Linked DNA regions of Homo sapiens: region 2 is linked to region 1. Evidence: fine-mapped expression QTL. A gene starts in region 1. The other region holds a variant in brackets. All regions are shown on one strand. Distances are between the middles of the regions. Region 1 holds the start of GALNT7-DT (GALNT7 divergent transcript). Region 2 overlaps GALNT7 (polypeptide N-acetylgalactosaminyltransferase 7).

The links. PIP is the estimated chance that this variant, and not a neighbour inherited with it, causes the effect.
Region 2: its variant is the best candidate, but not a certain one, in a credible set for the expression of GALNT7-DT in iPS cells (PhLiPS, PIP 0.84).

Annotation. Positions count from the first base shown.
Region 1 is chr4:173,167,400-173,172,773 of GRCh38, reverse strand. It overlaps GALNT7-DT (GALNT7 divergent transcript), which reads left to right and starts at 3,122. Exons shown (of 7, transcript NR_134242.1): 1 at 3,122-3,910; 2 at 4,661-4,812. It overlaps GALNT7 (polypeptide N-acetylgalactosaminyltransferase 7), which reads right to left and starts at 3,963. Exons shown (of 12, transcript NM_017423.3): 1 at 3,813-3,963. The coding sequence starts at 3,938. RefSeq lists silencers at 2,585-3,814, 4,045-4,164, 4,235-4,284 and an enhancer at 4,595-4,694.
Region 2 is chr4:173,295,792-173,301,165 of GRCh38, reverse strand. GALNT7 (polypeptide N-acetylgalactosaminyltransferase 7) reads right to left here. Exons shown (of 12, transcript NM_017423.3): 5 at 5,323-5,374; 6 at 2,869-3,051. Among named protein-coding and RNA genes, the nearest start is that of MIR548T, 30 kb to the right of the region's middle. The variant T/A (reference allele first, on the strand shown) is at 3,027.

The DNA of each region.
Region 1 (5,374 bases):
TCACTATTTCACTCATGCTACCTCCTGCCTCAGGACCTTTGCCCAAATGCTCCTTCTCAAGAATGCTGCCACCCACTTCCAGATTAACTACTTTTCTTGAAATGTTCAGATTTCGCCTCAAAAGTCAGAGTAGGCAGCTAGGCAGACATGAGCAGGGCAGGAAAGGCCCCCCACCACCAGGAATGTCAGGCGGCCATCAGGTGATGGTCAGGCCGTTGTTAAACTGTCTCTCTGAAATAATAATTGGTCGCGCCAACACCATGGAAAGGCAGTCTCCCATTAGATAGAAAACACCTAAAGCTGGTTATCAGCAGGTTCCCACTAAGATCTCAGGAGTTGGGCAAGTGGGCTCCAGCATGTGCACTAATAGGCAAAATGGCAGCTTTTAACTAGTATATGCCCTTCCTCTAGGAAGGCTCAAATTGTAAGGGAAAAATGCCTCAAGTGAGCATGAGTAAAACTTCAGTAAACACACTGCAGGCAGCCCCTCCCCGCTGCTGGCAGGCCACTGCGCATGCAGACAGCCCACCCCAAGGGAAGAATCACGGGAGAAGAAACGCAAACCCTGGAATCATGCCAATGTATAAAACCCCAAGTCCAGGGTCAGACGAGGTACTTGGATTTCTCAAGTAGCCCACATGGCCTTCTTCAAAGTGTACTTCCTTCCGTTCCTGCTCTAAAGCTTTTTAATACTCTCACTCCTGCTCAAAAATTTGCCTCGGTCTCTCACTCTGCCTTATGCCCCTCCAATAAATTCTTTCCCACAGGAGGTAAGAATCGAGTTGCTTCAGACCTGTGTGGATTTGCTACTGCTAATAGTCATTTCTTCAAGTAAGGCTTTTATGACCAAATTCCTCCATTTTCTTGCCCCCTATGGTTTTCACTATGAAAGCAGTAGCACAATTTTTATTTATATATTTATCGAGGTTTGATTGCTGTGTGGTTTTTACAAGATCCATGAGATTAAGGACAAGGAGTATTTCCTTAACAACTAGTACCATGCCTGGTATATAATTGGCACTCAAAAATGTTCAAATAAATCAATATTTAAAATCACACAACAGAATATGATCGGAAATGTAAGGTCATTTTTCACATCATTCACTTCAGAGAAAGGGCAAGAGGCCCAGAGATGGGAAGGAAATAAGAAACATGTTTCTTTTGTCTTGACTCCACAGGTGGACAGACCTAAAACAAGGAAATAGTGCAGATGAGAAAGGACCATCCCAAGTTGTCAAGGCTGTAACAGAATTTAGTGTATGACATATTCATAGTTCAAGACAAAAAGTGGCACAGGGTGAATGGAGCCACAGGTACAAGCTTGCTGGAGTAGAGGCAGAACCCATACCTGGTAAACTGGATCGTTCAGGCTATTTAAAGGGATCCAAAAAAGTCCATGTGTAGATCAGCATTAAAGAGAAGCAGAGATCTCACCATGGGTGGAATATATGCAATAGTCATCGAAGTAAAAGAACCACAAGGGGGAGGAGAAACTCAGGAGTCAGAATCCTCCCTACAGGATTTGTCCTTCTAGCACTGTACCTTAAAAGCTCCTAGGTTAGTCTTTATTAAAGGAAGGCAATAATCCCTTATTTATGCTCTTATTATTTATAAGCTACACTTTAAATTGCTTGTATTACTATTTACCTGGGAAGCCAATAAAAGGGTCTTTCTTGCTCTTCTGATACCTAAGCATTCCTCTTAATGTTAATTATGTTAAGTCTTTAAAATCTACCTTTTGTTTTTGACAAATGACAGAAATTACACTGGATCCACTGAGAAACTTTATCAAGTACACTGAAACAAACAAAAAATCAAGATATCATCACCTTCTTTATCATCACCATATAGTACTGAAATGGGCATTATGGCCCATCCTTTGTTTGCACTAATAAAATATTCCACGAGTTGGCAAGTGATGCTGATGTTCCGCCACCTCTTTAAAAGATCATCAGAAGGGCGGGACATTCTGAACCTAGCTAGTTTTGTCAGTTTTTCGTCAGTTTCTCTACCAGAAAATAGGGGGTTAAACATTTCTAGCTACATGTAAAAAGCCATTTGATGACTTAAAACAAATATCCTCAATTGCAATATTCAGTTATCCTTTGTCAATAAGTCATATTGAGAGCAAAATTATAAAAAGATCACCATCACTCCATGAGCTGAGAAGCTTAAAACCGCAAATGTACTGAAAAGGAAAACTGATACTTTTTATTACCATCAATTTAGATGACTTAGATGGGAATCTATCCCAGATATTACAAAGGGATTCCACTGCTGTAGAGACTTCAAATACTAAAACTTCCAGATTACATCTAATCTCATGATATAGGCGAAGAGCTGATAATGGGATCTCCTCCTAGGATTCTTACTCTTGAAAGGACGCCACAAGCCTTTTTGCCCAACTTCTTGATGCTAACTTTCCAGAAGGAAAGTTAAATAAACATGACATAGAAGCGATGCTCATCACACTTGCAAAAAGCACTTTACAACAGAGAGAGCGACTCGACTCCTCCTGCAGCCCCGCCGCCTCGGCGGTCGTGAGCCCCTCATACCCTCTCCTACCCCCACTGGCAGCCGGCCCAGTTGGCTGTCCCAGCGGGGAGGAGGAAGCAGGTGGTGCAACGGTTCATCCGGGGGGAAGCAGGTCAGGGTCGGGGGCGAGGCCGGTGCGCGCCGCCCGCTGCCGGGTCAGGGAAGCCGCAGTGCCCGCGGTCCCTTCCCCGCGCGGCGCGGCTCCGGGTAACTAATGTTCCGAGGCGCCTGACTAAACCCTCCAAATCCAAGGAATGTCAGCGCTAACACTCGCGCCCTGGGCGGCAGACAAATGCGTCCCAGCGGAGCCGCCGCGAGCTCCGCGCCGCCGCTCCCCTCGGCGTCGGCCTGAGCTAGCCGGCAGCCGGCGCGGGGCGGCCGGGCGCCGACACAAGTTAGTTTTCCGGCCCAAGCAGCCCTGCCGCAGCCAAGGAAGAGGAACTGCTCCTCTTCCCCCGGATAGCGCCCGAGCACTGCCACAGCAGGGGCTTCCCCAGGCGCTGAGGGCTGGGGGCGGCGGGCAGGCGGGGCGGGGACGCCCCTCCGCCATCTCCGGCCAACCGCCCCTCCCTCGCCCAGGGACGCGAGGGGGACCGGCGGTCCGGGCGAGGCCTCGGCCGCGCATCGCACCCCGGCTCCCCGCCGCCGGAGTTGAGGGGGAGGCGCGCTCTCCGTAAGAGCCGGAGGCGGGGCGCCATCGCCCTCCCACTCCCCGGCGGGCGGGCCGGGGGAGCCCGGGGCTGCGAACACCCCCAGACGGGCGGCTGCGGGAGGGGAGGCTGGACCAAGGGGCCTGGTCCACCGGACCAGCGGTGGCGGCATCGGCATCTCGCCTCCTTCAGGCCTGCACGCGCCACAGGCCGCAGCCTGGACCAACCCCGCGTCCCCGGGCCGTGAGCGCTGCGGTCCCGGCCCCCCAGAGCGGGACGCCGGGCGGCCGCAGCCCCCCGGACCCGGCTCTCCGCCCGCTCCGCCCGCAGTCCCGGCGCGGAGAGCGGCCGCCCGAGCCGCTGCCGCGGCAGCGCGGGTGTCGGCGACGGAGCCCGGGGCGGGGAAGAGCGGAGGAAGGGGCGGCGAGGGGGCGGGCCGGCGGCGGCCAGGGAGGTCGGAGTGCGCGGGGCTCGGCACCCCCTCGGCCCGCGCTGCGCCAGCACCACCTGCGGAGCTGCGGTGCCCACGCCGTGCCGCGACCCCGCCGCCCCTGCTCCCTCCACACGCGGGCAAACAAAACAAGTTGCCGGTCGCTGCCGCCGGAGGGGGCCGGGCGGGTCACTCACCCTCATCCTGCTCAGCGGGCTTGGGTCGTCCGGCCGCGGGGTCAGGGAAGACCAGAGGACCACTAGCCCCAGGAAGCTTCCCACCACCAGCAAACTGCGTAAGATGAACCCAATCTTCAGCCTCATCTTCCTCCGGCGGCGAGAGACTCACAGCCCGGCGCAGCCGCCGCCACCGCTCTCCCCTCCCTCCTTCCCCCTCCTCCGGCTCTCCTCCCCCTCTTTCCCCCACCCCTACCGCTACGGCTGCCGCCCTCTCCGCTGCCTGCCCTTTCCAGCTCCAGATCCGGAACTCCCCTCGGCTACACCTTTCCCCGGGCTCTTCCCTCCGCTCCTCCCCGTGGCCCCCTCCCCTCTGGCGGCCACCGCAGAGCTCCGACTGACCCGTGTGCCTCGCTCTGCCAGGCTGCCTTCCTCTCTACCTGCCCCCTTCCAGATCCGCAGTCCCCTGCTCTCCACGCGAGCCCCCTTCACAGTCCCTGCTACCTTGTAACTAACTTGCACTTTTCCCGAGTCCGGTTCTTAGCCTTTGCCCTGCAGCTCAGCTCCTTAAAGCTTTCAGATCCCCAAACTTTTATTGTAATTATGGACAATAACTCCGTCCTTAACGCCTGTGCCCTCCGGGATCCCGTGGCCCGCCGCCCCCTCCGTTGGACCTGGAGTCGCTCTCGTCTGCACCTCTCCCTTAGACCCACTTCCCTGAGCCCCTTGTCGAGAGGCTTTCAGGAAGCCAACCAGGAAGTGGGACTACCGCTGCTGCTGCAGCAGCTCCACGTGGCTGATTTATAGCTGAAGGGTTTTTTTTTTTCCTTCTTATTGATTGTTCTTGCTTTTTCACACGGCTCCTTAAGGTGGTGAATTTGTAACCGAAAGGCCCAGGTGAGATGTGCAAATATCACTGGATTGGAGGAGCTCACTTGGAAAGCCAGTATTCCTCCTGAGCTAATGAAAAGAAAGGCTGTCGTCTTATGCCAAAAGCAATACCAACCTTGTTCACGGGCTGGTAAGTTTCAAATCCAAGGACCACGGATTTCAACTCCACCCTCATTGCGTCCCTCAGATCTGATATTTGCCACTTGATTTCTGCTTTTCAAACGCCTTTTCTGCCTGTGTTACCTAAATTACACAGTAAAGGATATTGGCAAGTGTTTAGCCAAATGCCCCACCCTGAGGAAATAATTTTTCTGCCCATATCTCCCAATAAAGATGTCTATGCCTTTATAGCAGAATGTATGTAATTACATTATCAGTGTACTATATCCTAAACTGCTAATTTAAATTTAAGTCGAACAAAACGTTTTAAGATTTTATCCTAAGTTTTTTGGGGTTTTTTTTCTTTTCTTTTTTTTTTTTTTTTTTTTTTTTTTTTTTTTTTTTTTTTGAGACGGAGTCTCTCACTCTGTCACCCAGGCTGGAGTAGAGTGCAGTGGTGCGATCTTGGCTCACCTCAACCTCCACCTCTCGGGTTCAAGCAATTCTCCTGCCTCAGCCTCCCCCGTAGCTGGGACTACAAGTGCACACCGCCACGCCCAGCTAATTTTTTTTTTTTTTGTATTTTAGTAGAG
Region 2 (5,374 bases), 130 kb before region 1:
TTCTACCTTGAAAAAAAAATCTTTTTTTTTTGAGACATAGTCTCACTCTATGGCCCAGCCTGGAGTACAGTGGCATGATTGCGGCTCACTGCAGTCTTGACCTTCTGGGCTCAAGCAGTCCTCCCACCTCAGCCTCCTGAGTAGCTGGGACTACAAGCGCACACCAACACATCCAGCTACCTTTTTATGTATTTTGTAGAGATGGGGTTTCGCCATGTTGCTCAGACTGGTCTAGAACTCCTGGGCTCAAAAGTTCCACCTGCCTAGGCCTCCCTAAGTGCTAGGATTATAGGCATGAGCCACTGCACCCAGCCTTGAAAATACATCTTGAATCTGCTGACTTATTTCCAACTTCACTGCCACCAGCCTAGACCAGGCCAACACTGCTTGGACTTTCCAATATCTCCCGAGCTTGTGTCCTTTATTGTCTTCTGCCCCCTGCTCAAGGCTAATCACACAGGGGCCAGAGCAGACTCCTCCACATGCGCCTGCATGATACCAGCCTCTCCCGGCTCTCTGGGCTCACCATGGACTCTCTTCCCGTTGAGTCCTTCACGGCTCTGCTCCCACCGGGAACGTGCCAGCCTCCTTTCTGTCTTAAGGCCTTCATTCATGTTATTCACGATCCTGAAATGTTCCTTCTCCTTTTCCACAGAATTGGTCCCTCATCCTTCAGGTCTCAGCCTAAATGACACTTTGTCAGAAGGGCCTTTCCTGATCTCCCAAGCTGGATTAGGTTCATCTTTCCATAAACTCATGTACTCTGTGATTTTTCTTCATACTACTTATCACAGCTGCTGTTCCAGAGTTTTGTTTGTTTTGTGAGACAGGGTCTCACTCTGTTGCCCAGGCTGCAGTACAGTGGCACAATCATTGTTCACTGAAGCCTTGAACTCCTGGGCTCAAGCAATCCCTCTGCCTCAGTCTCCTGAGTTGCTGGGACTACAGGCACGTGCCACCACACCAGGCTAATTTTAGGGTTATTTATGCAGTTATCTGTTTAATTTCTGTCTGATTCACTGTATTTTAAATTCAATGAGGAAACATATCTTTAAAAATGTATCCCCAGAAAACAGTGCTTGGCATACAGTAAGCATTCAATAAACGTTTGTTGAGTGGATAATGAATCAAGAAATATTTTCAATACTAGAAGAAAATAGCATCAGAAAAAAGTTGTTCTCTCATGCTTTTTCTTCTTAAAATATGCTGCCTAACACAGTAACAACACTATTACATTTTAGGTGATATTTTCATGTCACCTTTATTTAACTGTCATTTAAGATTATTCCGTTATAGCTGTGTCTTTTTTTTTTTGTTTTTGAGACCAAGTCTTACTCTGTTGCCCAGGCTGGAGTGCAATGGCGTGATCCTGACTCACTGTAACCTCCACCTCCCAGGTTCAAGCGATTCTCCTGCCTCAGCCTCCCAAGTAGCTGGGATTACAGGCACACACCACCACGCCCAGCTAATTTTGTATATTTAGTAGAAATGGGGTTTCACCATGTTAGCAAGGTTGATCTCGAACTCCTGACCTCTGGTGATCCGCCTGCCTCGGCCTCCCAAAGTGCTGGGATTACAGGTGTGAGCCACCTTGCCCGGCAGCTGGGTTTATTTTTCTTCAAATATGTTCCCATTCATCTCAGTATATACTTGAAAATGCATCTTAACATGGTCACCAGTGAGTTAATCAACAGATAACCTCCCTTTAATTTTTCTAGGTCACTTTAAAAATTTTCTTTACTGGCCTATGGAATTAACAGAAATATAAATTTGCTCAGCACCCTTTATTTTTTTTCTCCCACAGTTATTTGTTAAGTTAAGCACGTAAGCAGTTGATTCCTGGACTATTCTGAATAAGAAATTTACCAAAAAAAATTTGGTAAATGTCCAATTAAGCTACTATGATTAATTAAGTGCTATAACTTCTTTATGTTTGCCATTCAGTATCTTGATATCATGACATGCCCAAATCCCACAGCGTTTCCATAACATTGGAAGCACCTTCCCAAAACAGAGTTCTAACATCACCAGCAGTGTAACAGGGAGAGAGAGACCAAAAGCAGAACCATAGGATCAGAAAAATAAGATTAGACACATTCAGGAGAAGGCTATACTAACACTTGAGCAAACATTTCATTTGGGGTCACTTTTTACAGAGACAGTAAAATGTTCTAATTACAAGATCAAAAGAAGAGAGTAGCATAAGTTGTTCTACTGAAAGAACCACAAGAAGGGACAAAAGCTGATTTTTGAATAGAGTTTTCTTTTAATCAATCACTTTTCTGAGAATGAAGCAATAAAGGATTCTATGTAACATTTTTTAAAGTCATGTATTGTGATTCATCAGATTTAACTAGTACAAAATTAGTATTTGAGAGTTAACATAACAGCAAAAGGGGAGAAAAACCCAGAAATCTCTTGCTAGTGCCCTTCATTGTTAACATTATACCCACGGCATGAACGTGGAAATAAAAGTCTTGGTTGGATTAAAGTAATTTATGTATTTTAAATTTATAGAATGACACTGTCATCAAAAGAATAAAATTTGATGTCTAATCCAGTAGGACAGGATAACTAAGATTTTATCTTTTTTTCACTTGTACGTGGAACAAATGCCATGTTACATTATTTTTCTTTCCCCAATGAAAGTGTGTACGTCTCAGTAGTGGACATCACATTTAGGGTAAAAGCAATTACAATGGAGCAAATGGAGCAGATTGAAAGCTCTGAAACAGTGTAAGGAAAGATGTTCTTTCAGAATCTGAGACAACATCTACAGTTTTAATAACGAATCTTTAGCTTGGCAAGAGGTTAATAGGTTAGCAGCAACTGGAGAAAAGAAAAATATGTAAGTGATTTAGTGATTACCGATACGGTTCAGTTTTTGTCTTTCTCAGTCTCTTCTCTTGAGGGGTCAGAGGCACCCGTTTCCAGAGCATACTCCAATCCCATGCTCCTCGGGCATACCCATCTTCATCACCACCCCCTTGGGGTATAATTTCATATGTGTTGCCATTTATGACATC[T/A]ATAAGCGGCACAGTGCAAATGGTTCTGTATTGTGTTGATGGCAGCAAAGATCAAATGGAAGCGTATGTATGGACCCACACATTTATACGAGTTCATGGGGAAGAAAAAAAAAAGAACTTAGATAAACATTCAACATAAGAAAATAAAGTAATAGTCTTTACCGATAAGGTTCAGTTTTATGTTTTCTTTTGGCCTTTTCCTTGTGGCTTAGAGGAATACGTTTCCATAGTAAACTCCAGTCCCAGGCCCCTCTGGCAAAACCATCTTCATCCCCACCTTGCTGTGGTTCAATGGAATAATCATTCCCATCTATGTAATCTATTAGAGGCACAGTACATGTAGTTCTGAAACATTTACAGAAAATGAAAAAGCATTTAAGAACCCAAGACTAGTTCAGCATGCCTAACTACGTTATCTCTTTTTGTTGTTGATTTGTTTGTGCACTAGGGGACTTTAATATCTAATGGGAAATAGAGTAAATGAATGTCCCATAAAAGCCGAAAAGCCTGTTTACGTAAGGGCAGGAGAGAGGAGACTTCCCCCTAGGCTTACAGACAAATGTCAGGGACAAAGAACTATATCACTGAGCTTAATAGAGTTTTCTCCTTTTCGCTTTGGTCCTAAAGGCAACTTTCTTTTGGTAATTTTACCTTATTTATAAGATTTTCTTGCCTGTTATTTTCCCTATCACCCATGAAAAAGCTCACGTGTGCGTGTGCATGCGTGTGCGTGTGTGTGGGGTCACAGATAGTACTTGCCACATTCTTAGCGGTTCTCTCAACCCTTTGTTGCTATTTCTTGGGAACAGTTATGAAAATGTGTTTCTGTACTTTTACTTGATCTTCCTCACTCCTCTAACTGCAGAAAACAGCTTTTATTGCAAAACAAACAAAAAAAAAAGGTATTGTTGCTTTAAAAAAAAAAAGCAAAAAAAATCCCTCAAAACTTGCTGAAGAACTTCAGAAGTGGTCTGAGAATTTGGATCAAAAAATCTCTTATATTTGGGCTTCACGAAAATGCTAGTACTCTATAACCAATTAGATGTCAAAGTGACATTACAAAGATTATCTGGTACCCTGCTTGTTACAATGTTCATCTCGTCAGAAAGGATTTTAAAATCTATTTTCCTAAAATGAAAATGACAGCTTTTTATATCCAGGTCAAGCTGCTTTTCAGAAGTTTAAAAACCAAGGAAAAGGGAAAACCTACAGTGCTTAGAACTTTAATATGGAGGAAGTAAAGTCCAGAAAGATGCTTCCTTCTCTCCAGAGTGTGAACTGGAGGGTCATTGTCAGATTTGTGGAATCTGCCACTGGAATCTGGAAAACCACTTCCTCACTGCCCAGAAGCCTGCTGGTATTCACCTAGAGAAAGTTACCTGACACTTGGTCAGTTAACTGTCCTCACTTATGATTTTCACATTCCTAAATACATGGTGCAGTGTAAACTTTCCCAGGGAGGCCTTGGTCTGACAGTTTATTAGCTCTCTGATTTGGGGAAAATTACTTAATTTCTCTAAGCCTCAGTATCCTCTTCAGTCAAATGGGGCTAATAATCTCTATCTTGCAGGGTTGCTGTGAGGATTAAATCAGACAGCATGTGAAAAATGTTCATGTTCGGCCTTCACATTAAATCCTCTCATGATTAAATCCTCCAAAGTTCTGCCTTTGATTCATGCCATTTGCCATTTGCCACATGGACGTGTTTTATTTTCCTAATTATGGACTAGAAGCAAGGAAGGCTTTTGGAGATAGAAAACTGATGGTGCCTTATGTTGTTTTAGACATTTCTGGAAATTTAATGGTGATTGTCACAATTCCATGGAATAGTTGTCTATTTCTAAACTTTAAAGTTTCTATAGGAACCCAAAACCTTGACACAAGTAACACCTGGTCTTTACTATTGAAAGTACTAATTTAAAAGGCACAAAAATCAACAGGTATAATATCAAAGCATGGTTCCTCAAGTGTTTAGAACTCTCACCCCAGTTTAGAGGGAGCAATTCATATAACTCTTAGAGAAAGTGCCTGGAGATAGAGGGGTCTTAATAACCCAACCACAAAATGATTCTTGAGTGAGGAACCCTAGGTTTCTCCCAAATGCCAGACTGCCTACATTTAAATCAGTCCACAGTATCAGTCTAGCTCCACCCAAGGAAACAAATAGATGAGGGATAACACTAAAGCACACTCGATGCACTGAATGGAGCTGGAATCAAAGGATGAAAATATTATTTGCCCTTCTAGGACAAGGTTTACTTTCAACCAGGAAAGAAAAAAAGCAAGGTAATGTTACCTGTCCTTAGATATGGGAGCTACAAGTGGTGCATACCAGTTAACTGCCACCT